2 linked regions of the Homo sapiens genome follow. The protein of the gene in region 1 interacts with the protein of each later gene in a biochemical or structural test. Each region holds a gene or a part of one and is shown on either strand. Other genes may lie near its edges.

The links. The genes of interacting proteins can lie anywhere in the genome.
Region 2: the proteins of MAP3K5 (region 1) and NEDD4 form a complex in vitro, tested with the Homo sapiens proteins (2 studies listed by BioGRID, with this or other methods).

Annotation. Positions count from the first base shown.
Region 1 is NC_000006.12:136,785,978-136,789,477, forward strand, and holds part of MAP3K5 (mitogen-activated protein kinase kinase kinase 5), read right to left. Parts: intron 78-3,500; exon of another isoform or gene 1-77. UniProt on the Homo sapiens protein: Serine/threonine kinase which acts as an essential component of the MAP kinase signal transduction pathway. Plays an important role in the cascades of cellular responses evoked by changes in the environment.
Region 2 is NC_000015.10:55,836,613-55,840,112, forward strand, and holds part of NEDD4 (E3 ubiquitin-protein ligase NEDD4), read right to left. Parts: intron 1,993-3,500; coding exon 1,897-1,992; intron 1,569-1,896; coding exon 1,495-1,568; intron 1,238-1,494; coding exon 1,177-1,237; intron 1-1,176. UniProt on the Homo sapiens protein: E3 ubiquitin-protein ligase which accepts ubiquitin from an E2 ubiquitin-conjugating enzyme in the form of a thioester and then directly transfers the ubiquitin to targeted substrates. Specifically ubiquitinates 'Lys-63' in target proteins.

The sequences.
Region 1 (3,500 bases):
CAAGAACCTTCAAACATTTAACCTGAATGAATGAATATAACCTCTTCACGGTTCAGTGTTTTCATAAGCAAAACAAGAGAATAGCAGCATTGATGTCTTTTAAAAAAAATTTAGGGCTGGGCGCGGTGGCTCACGCCTGTAATCCCAGCACTTTGGGAGGCCAAGGCAGGCAGATCACTCCTGAGGTCAGGAGTTTGAGACCAGTCTGGCCAACAAGATGAAACCCTGTCTCTACTAATAATACAAAAAAATTAGCTGGAATGTGGTGGCACATGACTGTAATCCCAGCTACTCAGGAGGCTGAGGCAGGAGAATCACTTGAACCCAGGAAGCAGAGGTTGCAGTGAGCCGAGATCGAGCCACTGCACTCCAGCCTGCGTGACAAGAGCAAAACTCCATCTCAAAAAAAAAAAAAAAAAAAAAAATTTGGAAAGCTTCCCATTTGGGATCTGTCCACCTACACAGGGCAACACGATAGTATTGACATCTCTTAGCTTTTACGGAATTTTCTGCCTACAATGCAGAGGGCAAAGAAGGGGTATTGTCAGCTTGGCTTTGCTGTCTCTGAGTGACAGTCTCTTGTATACGTAAATAAGATGAATTTTCATAAAAGCATTGACAGAGCATTAGCTTCACCTCAGAAAGAAAATGAAAAAGCAAATGACAACTGTAGTCAAAGAAGAAATTAAAATATAGTTAAATAGTAAACAGATCAAGAAAAAATCAGTGAAAACCTTTAACTTGCAACCTATTCTTTTTAAAGACATCAGTACACAAAGATTGGGAAAGTTTATTAAAAATGTTACCAAACTTTAAGTTCTTCTTTTTTTTTTTTTTTTTTTTTTGAAACAGGGTCTCATTCTGTCACCCAGGCTGGACTGCAGTAGCACGATTTCAGCTCACCGCAGCCTCAGCCTCCCAGGCTCAAGGGATCCTCCCACCTCAACCTCCCGAGTAGCTGGGAATAAGTTCTTACTCACTCCGTTAGGTTGAGCTATTCGAACATCACTGTTTCCCATGTAAACGTTGAGACCTTCATTAGGCTCTCCTTGCTTACCCTGCCATTTCACTTCAGGTGTCACCACCTTTAAGAAGCTACCCCTTGCCAGGTGTGGTGGCTCACACCTGTAATCCCAGCTCTTAGGGAGGCAGAGGCAGGAGGATAGCTTGAGCCCAGGAAATTGAGACCTGCCTAGGCAATATAGCGAGACCCCATTCTCCACAAAAAGGAAAAAAGCAAACAAAAAACAAGCATAAGAAGCTACCCTTGAACCCACTGTATCCTCAATCTGATTTTTGAAGCTGATTCCTGGGAGCCCAGCATCCTGGCACAGAGGCACTGCTAAGGCAAAGGCATTGGTCTGCCCTCCCCACCAACTCTGAGCTCTTCAGGGGCAGGAATATGATATATACAAGCAGTTCATTTAATCTCTACGAGCTGAAATGATTCATTTGTCTTAATAATGCTGTCATTTTAAAGTACAGAATTTGAGAGCTGGAGGGAATCTCAGATACCAATTATTCCAACACTCCACTCTTTTCTGAGGCTTTAAATGACTTGCTCCAAGTTAGAAAAGAATCAGGACCCAAAGCCAAACCTTGAAAATGCTGTTCTAATGCTTTGTGCCTGCATCCCATGCCACCTTGCCTTTGTAAATTCACAGGATTAAATAAGGGAATCCTAAAAAAATGTGTTCAATTCCCCCTTCACTTCTAACCCTGGTCAATTTTACAGGCAAAGAAACACCACTGGAGGCAATGAAGGGCCGTTCTCACAATTACATGGTTCACAGCAGAGCTGGGATGAAAACTCGGATCTAATATGAGGGACCATGTTCTTCCCACTATCTCATAAAAATTCAACTTTCAAGTACAGGTCATGGGTGTAGAGCAAAGGTCAGCATGGCACAGGGGCCAAATCCTGTGGGCCACCTGTTTTTGAGTATGGCTTGCAAGCTAAGAATGGTTTTTACATTTTAAAATGGTTATAAAACAAGAAATCATACTTTGTGAGGTATATGAAGTTCAAATTTCAGTGTCCACGAATAACGTTTGGTTGGAACATAGTCATGATCATTTGTTTAGGTCCTGTTTATGGCTGCTCTTGAGTAATAGGGCAGAGTTGAGAAGTTGTGAAAGAGACCTCAAGAAATGAAACCACACACCTAACACCATCTGATCTTCAACAAAGTCAACAAAGTAAGTAATGGAGAAAGGACTCCCTATTCAATAAATGGTGCTGGCTAGCCATATGCAGAATAAAATTGGACCCCTATCTATCACCATATACAAAAATTCATTCAAGATGGATTAAGGTTTAAATGTAAGACCTCAAACCATAAGAGTCCTAGAAGAAAGCCCAGGAAATACCATTCTGCATCAGCCTTGGGAAAGAATTTATGACTAAGTCCTCAAAAGCAATTGCAACAAAAACAAAAATGACAAATGGGACCTAATTAAACTAAAGAGCTTCTACACAACAAGAGACACTATTAAGAGAGTACAAAGACAACCCTCAGAATGGGAGAAAATATTCACAAACTACGCATTTAAGAAAGGTCTACAAATCAACAAGCAAAACAACAAATAACCCCGTTAAAAAGTAGGCGAAAGATATGAACAGACACTTCTCAGAAGAAGGCATACAAGCAGCCAACAAACTTATGAAAAAATGTTCATCATCACTAATCATCAGAGAAATGCAAATCAAAACCACAATGAGATAACATCTCACACCAGTCAGAATGGCTTTTGTTAAAAAGTCAAAAAATAACAGATGTTGGCGAGGCTGCAGAGAAAAGGGAACACTTACACACTGTTGGTGAGAATGTAAATTTGTCCTGCCACCGTGGAAAGTAATTTGGAGAGTTCTCAAAGAACTAAGAGCTGAACTACCGTTCGACCCAGCAATCCCATTACTAGGTATATACCCAAAGGAAAATAAATTGTTCTACCAAAAAGACACCAAACCAGATATTGAATGTTCTCACTCATAAGTGGGAGCTAAACATTGGGTACAAGTAAACTTAAAGATGGGAGGCTGGGTGCGGTGGCTCACGCCTGTAATCCCAATACTTTGGGAGGCCAAGGCAGGAGGACTGCTTGAGGCCAGGTTTGAGACCTGTCTGGGCAACATAGCAAGACCCCGTCTCTACAAAAAAAACATAGTAAAATAAAATAAAATTAGCCCAGCGTGGTGGCTCATGCCTGTAGTCCCAGCTACTCGGGAGGCTGAGGCAGGAGGATCACTAGAGCCCAGGAGTTCGAGCTAGCAGCGAACCATGATCATGCCACTGCACTCCAGGCTGGGCAACAGAGTGAGACCTTGTCTCTAAAACAAATAAAATAAAATAGAAACAAAGGGTTTGGATAAAACTGATGCACTACCTTCATTCTGTCACATTTTCATGCTTTCATGCTGACTGAGAGGGCACTCATCCTGGGAGTTCATGCCATCCAGATGGGCAGGGGTTAAACTGAGACCTGTCTAGGTTGAAAGA
Region 2 (3,500 bases), on another chromosome or scaffold:
CCTCTCAGGTTCAAGCAATTCCCCTGCCTCAGCCTCCCGAGTAGCTGGGACTGCACGTGCACGCCACCACGTCCGGCTAATTTTTTTGTATTTTTAGTAGAGACAGGGTTTCACCACATTAGCCAGACTAGTCTCAAACTCCTGACCTCAGGCAATCTGCCCACCTCGGACTCCCAAAGTGCTGGGATCACAGGAATGAGCCACCGCGCCCAAATTTTTAATTTTTTATAGAGATAAGGTCTCCCTATGTTGTCCACGTTGGTCTCGAACTCCTGGGCTCAAGCAATCCTCCCGCCTCAGCCTCCTCAAGTGTTGGGATTTTAGGCGTCAGCCACCATGCCCAGCCAGATACATATTTAACAGAAGATTGTAAGTTAGCTTAAGAAATGAGTGCTCTGACAATCTGTCTACCAATTGGAAAAATTTAAGTAACTTTTTAATTTATATTCTGAATAAAATATAGCCACAAAGAAAGGCAGCTATATGTCGTCACATGTAAATATCCCTAATAAATATCTGATAAAAGAAGAAAGTAGGCCGAGCACGGTGGCTCACACTGGTAACCCCAGCACTTTGGGAGGCCAAGGTGGATGGATCACTTGAGGTCTGGAGTTTGAGACCAGCCCGACCAACATGGTGAAACCATGTCTCTACTAAAAATACAAAAATTAGCCAGGCGTGGTGGCGGGCACCTGTAATCCCAGCTACTCAGGAGGCTGAGGCAGGAGAATTGCTTGAACCTGGGAGGTGCAGGTTGCAGTGAGCCGAGATCACGCCACTGCATTCCAGCCTGGGCGACAAAGTGACTCACTCCGCGCTCAAAAAAAAAAAAAAAAGAAGAAAGTAAGTCACAAAACAAAATGTGTAAGGTGATCCTATTTAGAAAAACAAACAATATGTTATACTATCCCTAAAGCACTCTTGTTCTTTTGCTGTCCTAAAGTGAAGAGAATGGAATAGGGAAAAGGCTTGGGGGAAAGGGGACCTGTCCATGTTTATTGTCTAGACTTCTTGAATGACTGAATGGAATATTTAGTTAATATAAAAATATAATTTAGAATGATTTCACAAAACAAGCCATATACTTATTTTTCTCAGATGTGATGAGGCCTAATATTTGAAACTTATAGGTTATACTGTGACATTATGGAAGAGCAAATAAAAGAAAATGAATACCTCTTTAAAAGCAGCCATTTGCTTCTGGATTCGGTTTACAAATCGCCATTGTATTACAAGACTAAAAAGAAACAACATTTCATTTTCATGTGAACCAAGACAAAATTCTGAGGCACAATTATTCTAGTTAGAAACAAAAACTAAAGGCTAGCTGAGACCAAGGTAAAAGCTGAATATGAGTGCTTGCTACTGCATTGTGATAGAGAAAAAGAACACTGAGATTCTGGACAAGGGGACAGAGAAAGATGGTAAGAAGAGTCTTTCTGGAATAAAGTACAAAATTATATCCAATAAAATACATACTAATAAAATACTTACTAAATATATTCCTTTTTGTTCTTATTGGTGACAACTATTTCTGATCCACCATTTTTCAGCTCATGTTGATGTGTCTAAAATTAAACACAATAACTTGATATGTTATTTTAGCGAGAAAAATTTAAAAAGTATACATATTGTAGTTATACGAGAAACTTGGTGTTTTAAATTAAGTCCAGTCAAAAGTTAAAAACTAAGAAAACTTAAAATACTAGTTTTACTAAAATAAATATGGAACGAGTCAAATGTTAAAGAAAGTACAAATTCTTGCTCAGAGACAGCTTTTGTTACTGGGAAATGAATGTAAAAACAGAGCCTAGGAATGTATTAAGTGTACGTATTAACATCTAAACATTTGTCTCACAATTTATGTGCCATTTTAACTGATCAAAATTCACAAACCTGTCCAAAAAGTTCTTCATCTATGATAAACCTGAGGTCCAATTCTGTTGGGTCATTTTCAAGAATCCATCTTAGGGAATTGTAATATTCACTATCCTAGATGGGAAAAATTACATATTTAAAATTTGTATCTATAACACACCTGAAATTGCAAAAAACAGTATGTAGAGGGTCTGAATAATTGGGTAAAAGATGAGAGGTCAGATGGACATCCTTTACTTACACACATATATAAACAAAAATGTATGTGTGTATGTGTGTGTATTACAAAAAGAGATGGATGACAGGTAAGGGCAAGAGTAAAAATGCATCAATCAATTAATCAATTGGTGCCTACTTAAAAGTTTAGAATCTATGTTTATGTGGAAGCAGTGGAGGTACAGATTTTATCATCCAGTTAAAGGAATGAATACAGAAGTTTTCAGATAAAACCTAACTTCTCTGGATATCCAGGAGCACTTAGCACATTCCTCATATGCCTATGTGACTTCGTGTTAAATGTTTTATTTTTATTTTTTAATTTAATTTTTTTTTTTTTGAGACAGGGTCTCGCTCTGTCCCTTAGGTTGGAGTGCAGTGGGGCGACTGTGGCTCACTGCAGCCTCGACCTCCTTGACTCAAGTGATCCTCCTACCTCAGCCTCCCAAGTAGCTGGGACTACAGGCGCGCACCACCACGCCTGGCTAATTTTTGTATTTTTTGTAGAGACAGAGTATCACCATGTTGGCCAGGCTGGTCTCAAACTCCTGACCTCAAGTGATCCACCTGCCTCAGCTTCCCAAAGTGCTGGGATTACAGTTGCACACCCCTGTGTCCGGCACTAAGTGTGAAATGTTTAAGTAGCTATGAGGAGGCCATTGTTTATACCCAGCCCGAGTTAAAGAAAAATCTCTTAATAAATATAGAGGCTCAATGAACCAACTCAAGTAACTGTGCAATCTTATGATTTATAAAGAATCACACTGTTTGTGCTGTTAATATGTAATAAGAAAAGAATAAAAAATGAACTTGGTACTAAGGAAGATGCCCTGGAATTCATGTGAACACACATTGTGTGAGGCTATTCAGCAGCACAGGAAACAACACGGCTACAGTCCGGGGTTTAATCCTTGGGCTTCTGTTTTTTTCTAGGAACCTAACCATAACGCTTTGCCTTTCGACTGCCATTTAAAAAATATACACCATTTGGCCAGGTGCGGTGGCTCATGCCTGTAATCCCAGCACTTTGGGACGCTGAGGCAGGCGGATAACGAGGTCAAAAGACTGAGACCATCCTGGTGAACACGGTGAAACCCCGTCTCTACTAAATATACAAAAATTAGCTGAGTGTGGTGGTGCGCGCCTGTAGTCCCAGCTACACAGGAGGCTGAGGCAGAGAATTGCTTGAACTTGGAAAGCAGAGGTTGCAGTGAGCCAAGATCACGCCACTGCACTCCAGCTTGGCAACAGAGTGACACTCTGTCTCAAAAAAAAAAAAAAAAAAAAAAAAAAATATATATATATATATATATATATATATATATATATATATATAACATTCATCATAAAAGATCATAATGCAAATACTGATTCAAAAGACATATAACTTGGTATAACCTATTGAA